Linked DNA regions of Homo sapiens. The protein of the gene in region 3 purifies or fractionates together with the protein of the main gene of each other region. This does not show direct contact. Each region holds a gene or a part of one and is shown on either strand. Other genes may lie near its edges. The genes, in order: PLS1, COL14A1 and STC2.

Region 1 (3,653 bases), on a different chromosome or scaffold from region 3:
ATATGGTAGCGCTTTATCCAGACTATCCCCTAATTGTATAGAGGAGGGACTCAGATATTCTTTTTTTTTTTTTTTTTTTTTTTTGAGATGGAGTCTCGCTCTGTCGCCCAGGCTGGAGTGCAGTGGCGCAATCTCGGCTCACTGCAAGCTCCGCTTCCCAGGTTCACGCCATTCTCCTGCCTCAGCCTCCCGAGTAGCTGGGACTACAGGCGCCCGCCACCGCGCCCGGCTAATTTTTTGTATTTTTAGTAGAGACGGGGTTTCACCTTGTTAGCCAGGATGGTCTCGATCTCCTGACCTCATGATCCACCCGCCTCGGCCTCCCAAAGTGCTGGGATTACAGGCGTGAGCCACCGCGCCCGGCCAGATATTCTTAACTAAGCTAGTTAGTGGGATAGCCAGAAGCTCTGTTCAAATTTCCTCATTACTAGACCCAAGCTCTTTTCATTAACTATTACTTTTTGAGGTTGTTGGCCCCACGATTATTTTTATTTATTTATTTATTTTTTGAGACAGGGTCCCACTCTGTCACCCAGGCTGGAGTGCAGTGGCACGATCACTGCTCACTGCAGCCTTGACCTCCCCGGGCTCAAGTGATCCTTCCCACCTCAGCCTCCCAAGTAGCTGTGGCCACAGGCACGTGCCACCATGCGTGGCTAATTTTGTATTTTTTTGTGTTTAGAGATGGGGTCTCACTATTTTTCCCAGGCTGGTCTTGAATTCTTTGGCCTGCCTCAGCCTCCCAATGTGTTAGGATTACAGGCCTGAGCCACCATGCTCAGCCTCCCAAGATTAATTTGAGTTGGTAGCAAGACACTCCAGTTCAAGATGTTCTGTGGACTGAAAGCCCTCAGAAACCAATCTAAGGGGGAAATTTGGTGGTCGATGAGAGAATGTGTGTGTCATCGGAAGAGGTGAAACACAAGGCTGCTGGCCAGTTCAAGGTTGAGTGTACACAGTGAGGAGGGAGTGAGGCTGGGGTCCTAGGAATCTTCACACTGGGGAGTTGAAGTCTGGAAAGGTCATGGTAGCTTAGCTTGTCAGAGGCAGACACAAATGGGTTGGCCCAAAGTCCTTGGGACTGAGAGTCTATTTCCTAGATATATTGTACACTACCAGGAGGTGGTGAGCAATGGCTTTGGAGAGGGTAGGCCAGGTGCAGTGAGGGTAGGCCAGGAGGGTGGCACCAAAGGGTGGTGTTTATGACCCAAGAACATGGGGGTGAGGTAAGGCTGAGAGAGAGACAATTGTGATCAGATTCTACCTGGAAAAACAAGACAGAAAGCAGTGCTGCTGAATCCAAACTTCCAGTTCAAGAGGTGGTTTGGAATATTTGTTTACTTGGAACAGATGTTGCATTTTGCAAATCATAGCCATTTTGCAAATCAAAACACAGCCTTTCCATTGAGCTGCACACAGCGATGAGGGAGCTGTTGGATGCCACATCCTTGCCATTGACTTGCACACTGTGGTTGACCACCATCTTCATATTTCCACAGGCAACGATGGTCCATTAAAAATGTCAAGGAGAGAGAGAGCAGTTGAGAGGAGAGACAGAACAAATGAGCTTGAGAAATGGCTAGCAGTGGGGAAGGGAAGGGTTGGCCTGGTTTCATATATATATATATATATATATATATATATATATATATATTTTTTTTTTTTTTTTTTTTTTTTTGAGACGGAGTCTCGCTCTGTGGCCCAGGCGGGAGTGCAGTGGCGCAATCTCGGCTCACTGCAAGCTCCGCCTCCCGGGTTCACGCCATTCTCCTGCCTCAGCCTCCCGAGTAGCTGGGACTACAGGCACCCGCCACCACGCCCGGCTAATTTTTTTTTTATTTTTAGTAGAGACGGGGTTTCACTGTGTTAGCCAGGATGGTCTCGATCTCCTGACCTCGTGATCCGCCCGCCTTGGCCTCCCAAAGTGCTGGGATTACAAGCATGAGCCACCGCGCCCGGCCTATATTTTTTATATATATATGTTTTTCATGATGACGTTAGTGAAAATTGATTAGGCAGATGCAAAATCAGGTAGTATGTTGAAGTTAATGTCTCATACACTTAAATGTCCAAATATTAAATCCTAGAATTTACCATGGCCCTTTGTAAAATGACAAATATCTTTCTTAAAATAATAATAGTAATATTAGTAACTAGTATTACAGAATATCTTCCATGAACCAGGCACTATACTAAATACAAGTAATATATCATTTCATCTTTATAAACCATCCTGTGAGATAGGTGCAACAATTACTCATTTATTTTTAATTTTTATTTTTTAAAAACAGGGTTTCAGTCTGTCACCCAATCTGGAGTGGAATGGCACAGTCATAACTCACTGTAACCTTGAACTCCTGGGCTCAAGCAGTCCTCCCGCCTCAGCCTCCCAGGTGTGGACCAACGTGCCCGGCTTATTAAAAAAAATTTTTTTATAGTGATAAGGTCTTGCTATGTTGTCTAGGCTGATCTCAAACTTTTAGCCTCAAGCAATCCTCCCACCTCAGCTTCCCGAAGCCCTGAGATTACAGGCATGAACCACTGCACCTGACCTACCCTCATTTTCTAGATGAGAAAATTGAGGCTTAGAGAGATAGATAAAAGCATTTATCTGAGGTCATATAGTTTACAAGTGGCTGAGCTGAGATTTGACCCCAGGCCTATCTGACTTTATACACTGAGCGCTCAAATAACTTAATCAAATATCTTAACAAAAATGCAAAGCTCTTTCTGAGGTAACTCTAACAGATGCTTAGAATAGCCACAGGTTTCAGCTGGTGGAACCACCAACATTCTTTGAGCCACATTTAAAAAAACCAAAACAACAGTGGTAAATCGTTCCGGTTTTTTTTTTTTTTCATTCCACTTAGTCTTTATCTCCTTTTCTCTTGAAGCATTCCTAGAGAAAGGGACAGCAGCTTTTTCTCTGGGTACACCATTAAAGCCACTTCTGATCTGCTCCCACCCTCTTTTGGGGTGGAGCTGTGATTGGGGAGTGAGTTGGTGGTCATCCAGGGCGTGTCTGTGGAGTTGGCAATGGGAAACTGGGAAGCTCACCTTGTGTAGGAGCCTAAGAACTCTGGAGTGACCAGGTATAAGGATTTCTTTCCCTGGGGTGTCAGGATCCACTGCTGGAAGCTCCTGGAATATCTATGGATCATGACTCTAATCTTAGGCCTTTGAACTATGGCCATAAACCCCCAGGAAGAATCCAGGTGTGAACACATTCTCCCCCAATTTTTAAGATTGGGGAGTTGTGAAGTCCCTGTGGACTAATTGGAGGTGGGTGTGGATACCTCAGGAAAGGCCCCAGGTCAAAGACAAATAATTTAAAGGCCCCCCCCACCCCATAGGCCCCAGCTTTGACCTGTGAGAAAATGTGCTCCTCTCCCTCCTCTTGATGAACCTAATTACATAGAGAACTTACTCTCCTGGGAGTCTCAAAATGGAACTCAGCTGAGAGCGTGCTTCCCTCCCTTGCTGCCTGAGCTCTCTTTCCATTTCCTGGTTCTGCTTTACCTTCCCCTGAGTGGTTCTGTGTTCCCAGGATATGAAAGGCAGGGCCGCAGCTTCTGGCTTCACCGGGCTAATTTTTGTATTTTTAGTAGAGTCGGGGTTTCACCATGTTGGCCAGGCTGGTCGCCAACTCCTGA
Region 2 (3,653 bases), on a different chromosome or scaffold from region 3:
GACAAATGGCTAATATCCAGAACCTACAAGGAACTTAAACCAATTTACAAGAAAAAAACAAACAACTCCATCAAAAAGTGGGAGAAGGATATTAACAGTCACTTTCTCAAAAGAATACATTTATGCAGCCAACAAACATATGAAAAAAAGCTCATCATCGTTGGTCATTAGAAAAACTCAAATCAAAACCACAATGAGATATCATCTCATGCCAGTTAGAACGGCAATCATTAAAAAGTCAGGAAACAACAGATGCTAGAGAGGATGTGGAGAAATAGGAACACTTTTACACTGTTGGTGAGACTGTAAATTAGCTCAACCATTGTGGAAGGCAGTGTAGCGATTCCTCAAAGACCTAGAACTAGAAATACCATTTGACCCAGCAATCCCATTACTGGGTGTATACCCAAAGCATTATAAATCATTCTACTATAACAATACATCCACACATGTTTATTGCAGCACTACTCACAATAGCAAAGACTTGGAACCAGCCCAAATGCCCATCAATGATAGACTGGATAAAGAAAATGTGGCACATATACACCATGGAATACTATGCAGCCATAAAAAAGGATGAGTTCATGTCCTTTGCAGGGACATGGATGAAGCTGGAAACCATCATTCTCTGCAAACTAACACAGGAACAGGCAACCAAACACTACATGTTCTCACTCATAAGTGGGAGTTGAACAATGAGAACACATGGACACAGGGAGGGGAACATTACACACTGGGTCCTGTTGGGGTTGTGGGGCAAGGGGAGGGATAGCATTAGGAGAAATACTTAATGTAGATGACGGGTTGATGGGTGCAGCAAACTACCATGGTCCATGTATACCTATGTAAAAAACCTGCATGTTCTGCACATGTATCCCAGAACTTAAGTATATTAAAAAAAGATAAATAAATTAGAAAAAAAGAGTGTATCATTTAGAAAAAGGAAAGATAGATAAAACAACTCAAAGAAAACTCAATGTATAAAAATCTAAATCCCTGAGGGGATACATCCATGTTACGAATAATTAGAAATGACTATAAATCTACTCAATACGAGTTGATGTCAATGAAAAATATAACTATTGGTTAACGGATGGTATTTTATTAAGAATATTTTCACTATACCATATAGAAGACCTTTTCTGTGTCCTTTGCTTAAAAGTTTTTTTATCAGATTTCCAAGGGCAGAAGAAATTATTTTCTATATTAAACTTTTATACATGTCTATACATACATATATACAGACACAAGTGCATATGGCCTTTTATGACCCAACTTTGGTGCTCGAACAGGTGCAAGGCAGCAGAAGAGAAGCAATATTTGAAACAATGTTCAGAGGTTATTAACTTGGAGCAAGTTGTACATGGAGCAAGTTTTGGATTTATAAAGGTCACTAAGAAGCCAGTAGTGGAGTCAGATTAACAGAGAACATTAGTTTCTGGAGATGGCAGAGTCACTGAGAAAAGAGCAGTAAAGTTTGCATTGATCTCCGAAGACAGTCTTATTAGCTGTGTTAGTAACATCTGCAGAGTTTCTAGTCAGTTGAATTTATACAGACCGTTCCTATGACTTCTTCCTCAGGGTCCCCTTGAGCTGTCATGTAGGTCACCCTAAACTGCTGCACATCGCTGTCAGAAATGTCCCATTTTACCCGCAGGCTAGAAGTAGTTTCATCACCTACAACTAGGTTTCTGATTCCCGTCTGGAAAACTGGAATAAACACAACCAAGGATTAAAAAACTTTTAACATATCATATTCCAAAATGAGCCACAGAGAATACCTGTGGGGTGACAGCAAGCATCATTTAATGTATCCCTGTAATATAGTTGTATATGAGGCAAGAAGGGCTCAGCTATGGTGCTTAATGGGGAGGCATGATACCTACTAGCAGCAAATAAAAGTGGAATTAAGAGATGCTTACAAGATGAGACCATGGAGCCCTCAAAACTGTCAGTTCTGTATGTGCACTAGTAAAGAGAACTGGGAAGAAGCCCTGAGACTAGAAAAACAGCCCATGGAACCCAAAGGAAAGAGTGGTCATGAGAACCTCACACTAGTGCTCTGTGGACAAGTGGGCACAGTGGGCCAGACTTTGTCCACCTCTGTGTGCAATCCAGCATCCAACACACATCCCAATCACCTGCCCTCACCTCCATTTCTCTTTTAACACCTGTCATTCAAAGCACAAATCTGCGCTCAGGCTGCCTTTATCCATTCAGCCCACACAGACACGATCTTTTCTCTGGTACTTGTCCAAACTCCTTTACCTGTGTTTCCTGGCACATTCGTGCTCATCTCTCAAGGTGCCTGCTCCCTTATTTGTTGCATTTTTTTCTTTTCTCTTCTACCCTAACTTCATTTCCCTTTGTCCATCTTTTCTCATTCTCCTTTCTCTTCATTCATCTATTAATTCATTTAGAAAATATTCATTGAACTTTTTCTGTGTGTCAGACTGTTAGGGCTTTGGTTTTTATATAGTTATTAACTCAACAAAAATAGTAAAAGTGTCACAGAGGAGGAGGGGGTTGACATTTACCTGGCAACATTGCAGGGGGGCTACCAGGCAATGGGAATGGGAGGGAACTTCTCACATTTAGGGAAAGGAGTTCGGGATTGCAAGAGAAAAACGGGGGAAGCATAGGAAATATGGTTGAGGCCAGGAAGGGAAGCAGGACCCAACTAGGAAGGATCTTGGATGCTGTGAAAAAGACTTTAAAGCACAAAGAAGGCTTGATAAGGATTAAATGAAGAATGAACAAATCAACAAATGGGTAATGGAGAGCCATTGAAGTGTCTTAGAGAAGTAAATAAATGATATTATCAAACTTGTGTTTTACCAAGTTGACTCTGACAGCTAGTTGGGAGGTGTATTACAGTGAAGGGGAAAGCTAAGCTGAGAGAGGAAACAACTAATGTAGGAAAAACAATAGACCAGCCAAGTGTCAGTTACCCACAGAAATGCAAGGAAAACATGGTAAGAATAATTCTCAACAAGGCCAGGCATGGTGGCTCATGCCTGCAATTCCAGAACTTTGGGAGGCCAAGGATGAAGGAACATTTGAGCTCAGGAGTTAAAGACCAGCCTGGGTAATATGGAAAGACCTCATCTCTACTAAAATTCAAAACGATTAGCCAGGCACGATGACACATGTCTGTAGTCCCAGCTACGTGGGGGGCTGAGGCTGGAGGATCACATGAGCCCAGGAAGTCAAGGCTGTGGTGAGCCTTGATCGTGGTGCTGCACTCCAGCCTGGATGACAGAATGAAACCCTGTCTCTAAAAGAAAAAAAGAGAAAAGAAGGGGAATTCTCAACAGAGAGCAACAGAAGTGCAAATCAAAACCACAATGAGATACCATCTCACACCAGTTAGAATGGCAATCATTAAAAAGTCAGGAAACAACAGGTGCTGGAGAGGATGTGGAGAAATAGGAACACTTTTACACTGTTGGTGGGACTGTAAACTAGTTCAATCATTGTGGAAGACAGTGTGGCGATTCCTCAGGGATCTAGAACTAGCAATACCATTTGACCCAGCCATCCCATTACTGGGTATATACCCAAAGGACTATAAATCATGCTGCTATAAAGACACGTGCACATGTATGTTTATTGTGGCACTATTCACGATAGCAAAGACTTGGAACCAACCC
Region 3 (3,653 bases):
GTTAGCCTAATTCGAGGAAAATGCAATATTGTTTTGCTTTTGGCAAGAGCTTCCTGCAGAGTTTCGCCATGAATTGTATGATTCTAACACTGTAGCAAGGGTGTTGCAAGATGCCTATGACCTTATAACCAAGTGGAAAGAGACAGGAGGTGCTTGCTGTTCTCTGTCATCTAAGTGGTGTTGGTGTGGTAGGGACATAACTGGAAGAAGGTTGTGGCACAAACTGAGGATCAAGAGTTCATAAAATTATACCGATTTGGCTCAATGAGTCACCGTGGAGAGACCAACAGTGCCATCAAACTGGTAATGACTTGTACTGAACTGGTTGGCTAGTGGCTTTCTTTCTGCCCTGTGTCTCTTAGGAAAGAGCCATTGTCAATATTTAAAAAAAAAATCTTCAGGGGCTCCTGGCCCTGCCTCATGTTAGGAACAATTGTGTACCAACATGCTTTACCATGCTGCAAAATTTAGGATCCTGTGGCTGAAATATTTTGTAAGAAATGATGCATCCTGAATTTATCATTGAATTTCAAGTCTTGAAATAAGTAAGTTCACATTTCCTTGTTTTGGCATAGAAGTGTTTAGCTGATTAAAGTTTTTGGCACTTGTTTTGCATTTCCTCTGAGAGGGCACTAATGTATGAGAGAAGGTAAACCGAACCTTCTAAGGGAAAGGAAAGTTAAGGAGGCAGGAAAAGCATCTATAGCTCTGTTTTCGGGATTTAAGAGTATAGGTTCTGGAGGCAGACTGCTCAGCAGACTGGAGCCAGGTCCCAAGTCTGGCTTTGCCTGTCACTAGCTGTGTGAGCTCTGCCTTAGTGAGTCTCAGTTTTCTCATCTGTCAAATGGAGGTGACGAGGGCTGTGGTGAGGATCAAGTGAAAAATTCACAAGGAGCCCTTAGCCCAGTGCCTGGCGCTTAGTAAATATTCAACAAATGTTATTAGCAATTTGCTGTCTGTAAGGACACCTCTACAGCTACTCAGAATATTCTGAGAGCTAGTGGGTTCTTGGCTAAGGGGAAGATGAAGAGTATTACTGAATCGACACATTTCATTCTTAGTAAAACGATTTCCCATTTCTGTTGCTTGTGATTTTGAGACTGATGAGGGAATTCTCTCTTTTCCTAAAAGCCAGCAGGAAAGGGGCCTTTTAGTAGAGTCAGTGTAGCTTTCTGAAGTAAATGGAAGCCTTCTCCATTTGACAGGCATTCAGCCTCTAGAAGCAACGCGGCTCTCCTCCCATACACATTGCCATCCTTGCTGGGTGGCCCCTTCACCCAGGCCCTCTGCGGGGCAGTACTCACTCGTGCAGCAGCAAGTCCTTGAAATGGATCATCTCCACTATCACCCGGGTGTTCTCCTGGGCAGCCGCGCACAGGTCGTGCTTGAGGTAGCATTCCCGCTGCAACTGGGACACCATTTCCCTGATGGCCGGGCACTTCCGGCTTATGCAGCCGAACCTGTGCCGCAGAGCGTGGGCCTTACATTTCAAGGCGTCTTTGATGAATGACTTGCCCTGAGAACACACAGGCCGGGGAAGGGAGAGAGGGGCAGAAAGCAGAAGACCTCGTTACATGCTTGGACATTTCAGCCCTTCTTGGGCTTACACAGGATATTTCTGACATCAGAACCCCAAGGCCCCACCAGAGACGGACGTCCTCCCAGGTGACAGGCAATGCGACATCCGGAGGCACGTCCAGAGTGACATGACACCCCCAGCACTGGGCAACAAGGGATGTTCATTCTGTAGACGAACACATCTCCCTCCTTCCTCCCTGGCTACTCTGTGAGTTTCCCTCCAACGGGGGCTTCCGTGGCTATGTGTCCCTCAGGTAGCCCTGTGTTGGTTGTGTGGTGGCAACTTTTCTGGAACACAAAGGGAATTTGGCCAGACACAAATCCATAAATCCCTCACGGTTCTCACAAGCAGTCTTCCCTAAGTGGAAGGTGCCTGCATGTCCAAATCTCACACGTTTCCTTTTTCCCTTGATTCCAGGGGCGACACCGAGATTGATTGCTGATTGTACCTCCCTTTCTGCCTCCGTGCCTCCCACGCCCCAAATCCATACCCTTGTCTCCTCCTACCCTACCAGGAAGAGCGCTCTTTTCCTTTTTGAAAATGACTCTACTCCTTTAAACTGTTCGGATTATTGCCTCTAAAAGGCTGGCCTGGCACCCTGCCTGGCAGCATCTGGAGTCTGAACTGCCGCACTGGCGGCCCCTCCCCCACGCTCCCTGCCTCCGAGTGGCGAAGGCAGCCAGGCATACATCTGGCCTGCAGTTCTCTTTCCTGGCAACCCCGTCTGATTGTGCTTATCCTAGAAAGGAGACAGCTGTTGGGGGTGTGGAGGCGAGCTCGGTGCTGCTCCCTTATCAACCTCGCGCAGCCCGGAGGCATTGTGGGATGCCTACCCGGGAATCCCCGCACCCCACATTACTATAGAAACTAGCTGTCGTCGGAGAGGTCACCCCTCTGTTTTTAGACAGGCCCGGAAGTCACTGAGTTGAGAAAGTAAATGGGTTTAGGTTGGAAGTGGGAAGCCAGCCAGCACATTTATTTTGGTTTTGTCTTTAGCAGCCATAGAAATGTCTACAGATAGCGTCTGATCTCTGAAAAACCATGTGGCCCGCATGGCCTCCCCGTGGCCCCCTCTCTTTTGACTCTCCAGCCAGAGCCAAACAGAATGGAGGGCAGGGTGTGCCCGTTTATTAAGCAGTTATGTGCTGAGCATCAACTTGAAAGGGATGTCTCTAACTTGAGAACGTATTCCTGTTGGTTGGGAAAAAAAAGAGGAAGATGAATTTATGCGAGGGCTGTGGCAATCTGTTCTTGGTATTCTTCCCTGACATCCTGTGGGATTGCCCTTAAATACACGTCTTTCCTCCGGATTTCCTATTACGTTTCCTAATTCCCGTTAATCCAGAGTGATGCTTTATTAGGGAGCCTCAAGGAGTTCAAAGTTCTACCTCTTTCCTTCCCTGGTTTCAGTTTCCCCTCTGGCCACACCGCACATCCTCTGCAGTTTAGGCTGCCAGCCCCGTCTTCGCCTCCCCTCCTTGTTCCCAGGCACTGCTTTGTCAGGCTCACTACTATATGTCAGTGGATGGGGACTGGTGACATCCATAAATCTCACCTAAGCTGATGGCCACCTCCAAATGTTGGCATTGCTCTCCAATGAAGCAGGAGAGACGTTTCTGAGATATAGTAACAGGGCGTTTCAACAGGGCATATAAGTGGCCAGGGAGAACACGAAGAAGGTGAGTCTGATGCCACATGCCATCTAAAAATGTATTTGCGTTGTTGGCACTGGAGCCATATGTTGCTTGTTGTGTTCCTGCCTTGCCCTGAGCAGCAACTCCGCGTTCCCCTTGGGACCCTGGGATAACCGAAGTGGGTCAGGCCCTGACTATATTTATCATATAGAGCAAAAGGAAAGTGTGGAACTGAAGGACTCAATCAGGGTTTCGACCGGTCAGCTTGGGAGAGAAAGATCTGCTACTCAGGAGGAATAGAAGTCTGCTCTTTTGGAGGTCCTGAGTTATTCGGGTTGGCTGCCCACACACCACATGACGGATTTCTACATACTTTGTGTCTCATTTTCCTAGTAGGTGAAATGACTTCTGAAATGTATAATTGGGGGTTCCTGCCCCTG

The links.
Region 1: the proteins of STC2 (region 3) and PLS1 purify together in Homo sapiens (affinity purification with mass spectrometry; one large-scale study listed by BioGRID and IntAct). This does not show direct contact.
Region 2: the proteins of STC2 (region 3) and COL14A1 purify together in Homo sapiens (affinity purification with mass spectrometry; one large-scale study listed by BioGRID and IntAct). This does not show direct contact.

Annotation. Positions count from the first base shown.
Region 1 is NC_000003.12:142,599,264-142,602,916, forward strand, and holds part of PLS1 (plastin-1), read left to right. Parts: intron 1-1,264; exon of another isoform or gene 1,265-1,483; intron 1,484-3,653. UniProt on the Homo sapiens protein: Actin-bundling protein. In the inner ear, it is required for stereocilia formation. Mediates liquid packing of actin filaments that is necessary for stereocilia to grow to their proper dimensions.
Region 2 is NC_000008.11:120,229,524-120,233,176, reverse strand, and holds part of COL14A1 (collagen alpha-1(XIV) chain isoform 1 precursor), read right to left. Parts: intron 1,711-3,653; coding exon 1,559-1,710; intron 1-1,558. UniProt on the Homo sapiens protein: Plays an adhesive role by integrating collagen bundles. It is probably associated with the surface of interstitial collagen fibrils via COL1.
Region 3 is NC_000005.10:173,321,915-173,325,567, forward strand, and holds part of STC2 (stanniocalcin-2 precursor), read right to left. Parts: intron 1,517-3,653; coding exon 1,305-1,516; intron 1-1,304. UniProt on the Homo sapiens protein: Has an anti-hypocalcemic action on calcium and phosphate homeostasis.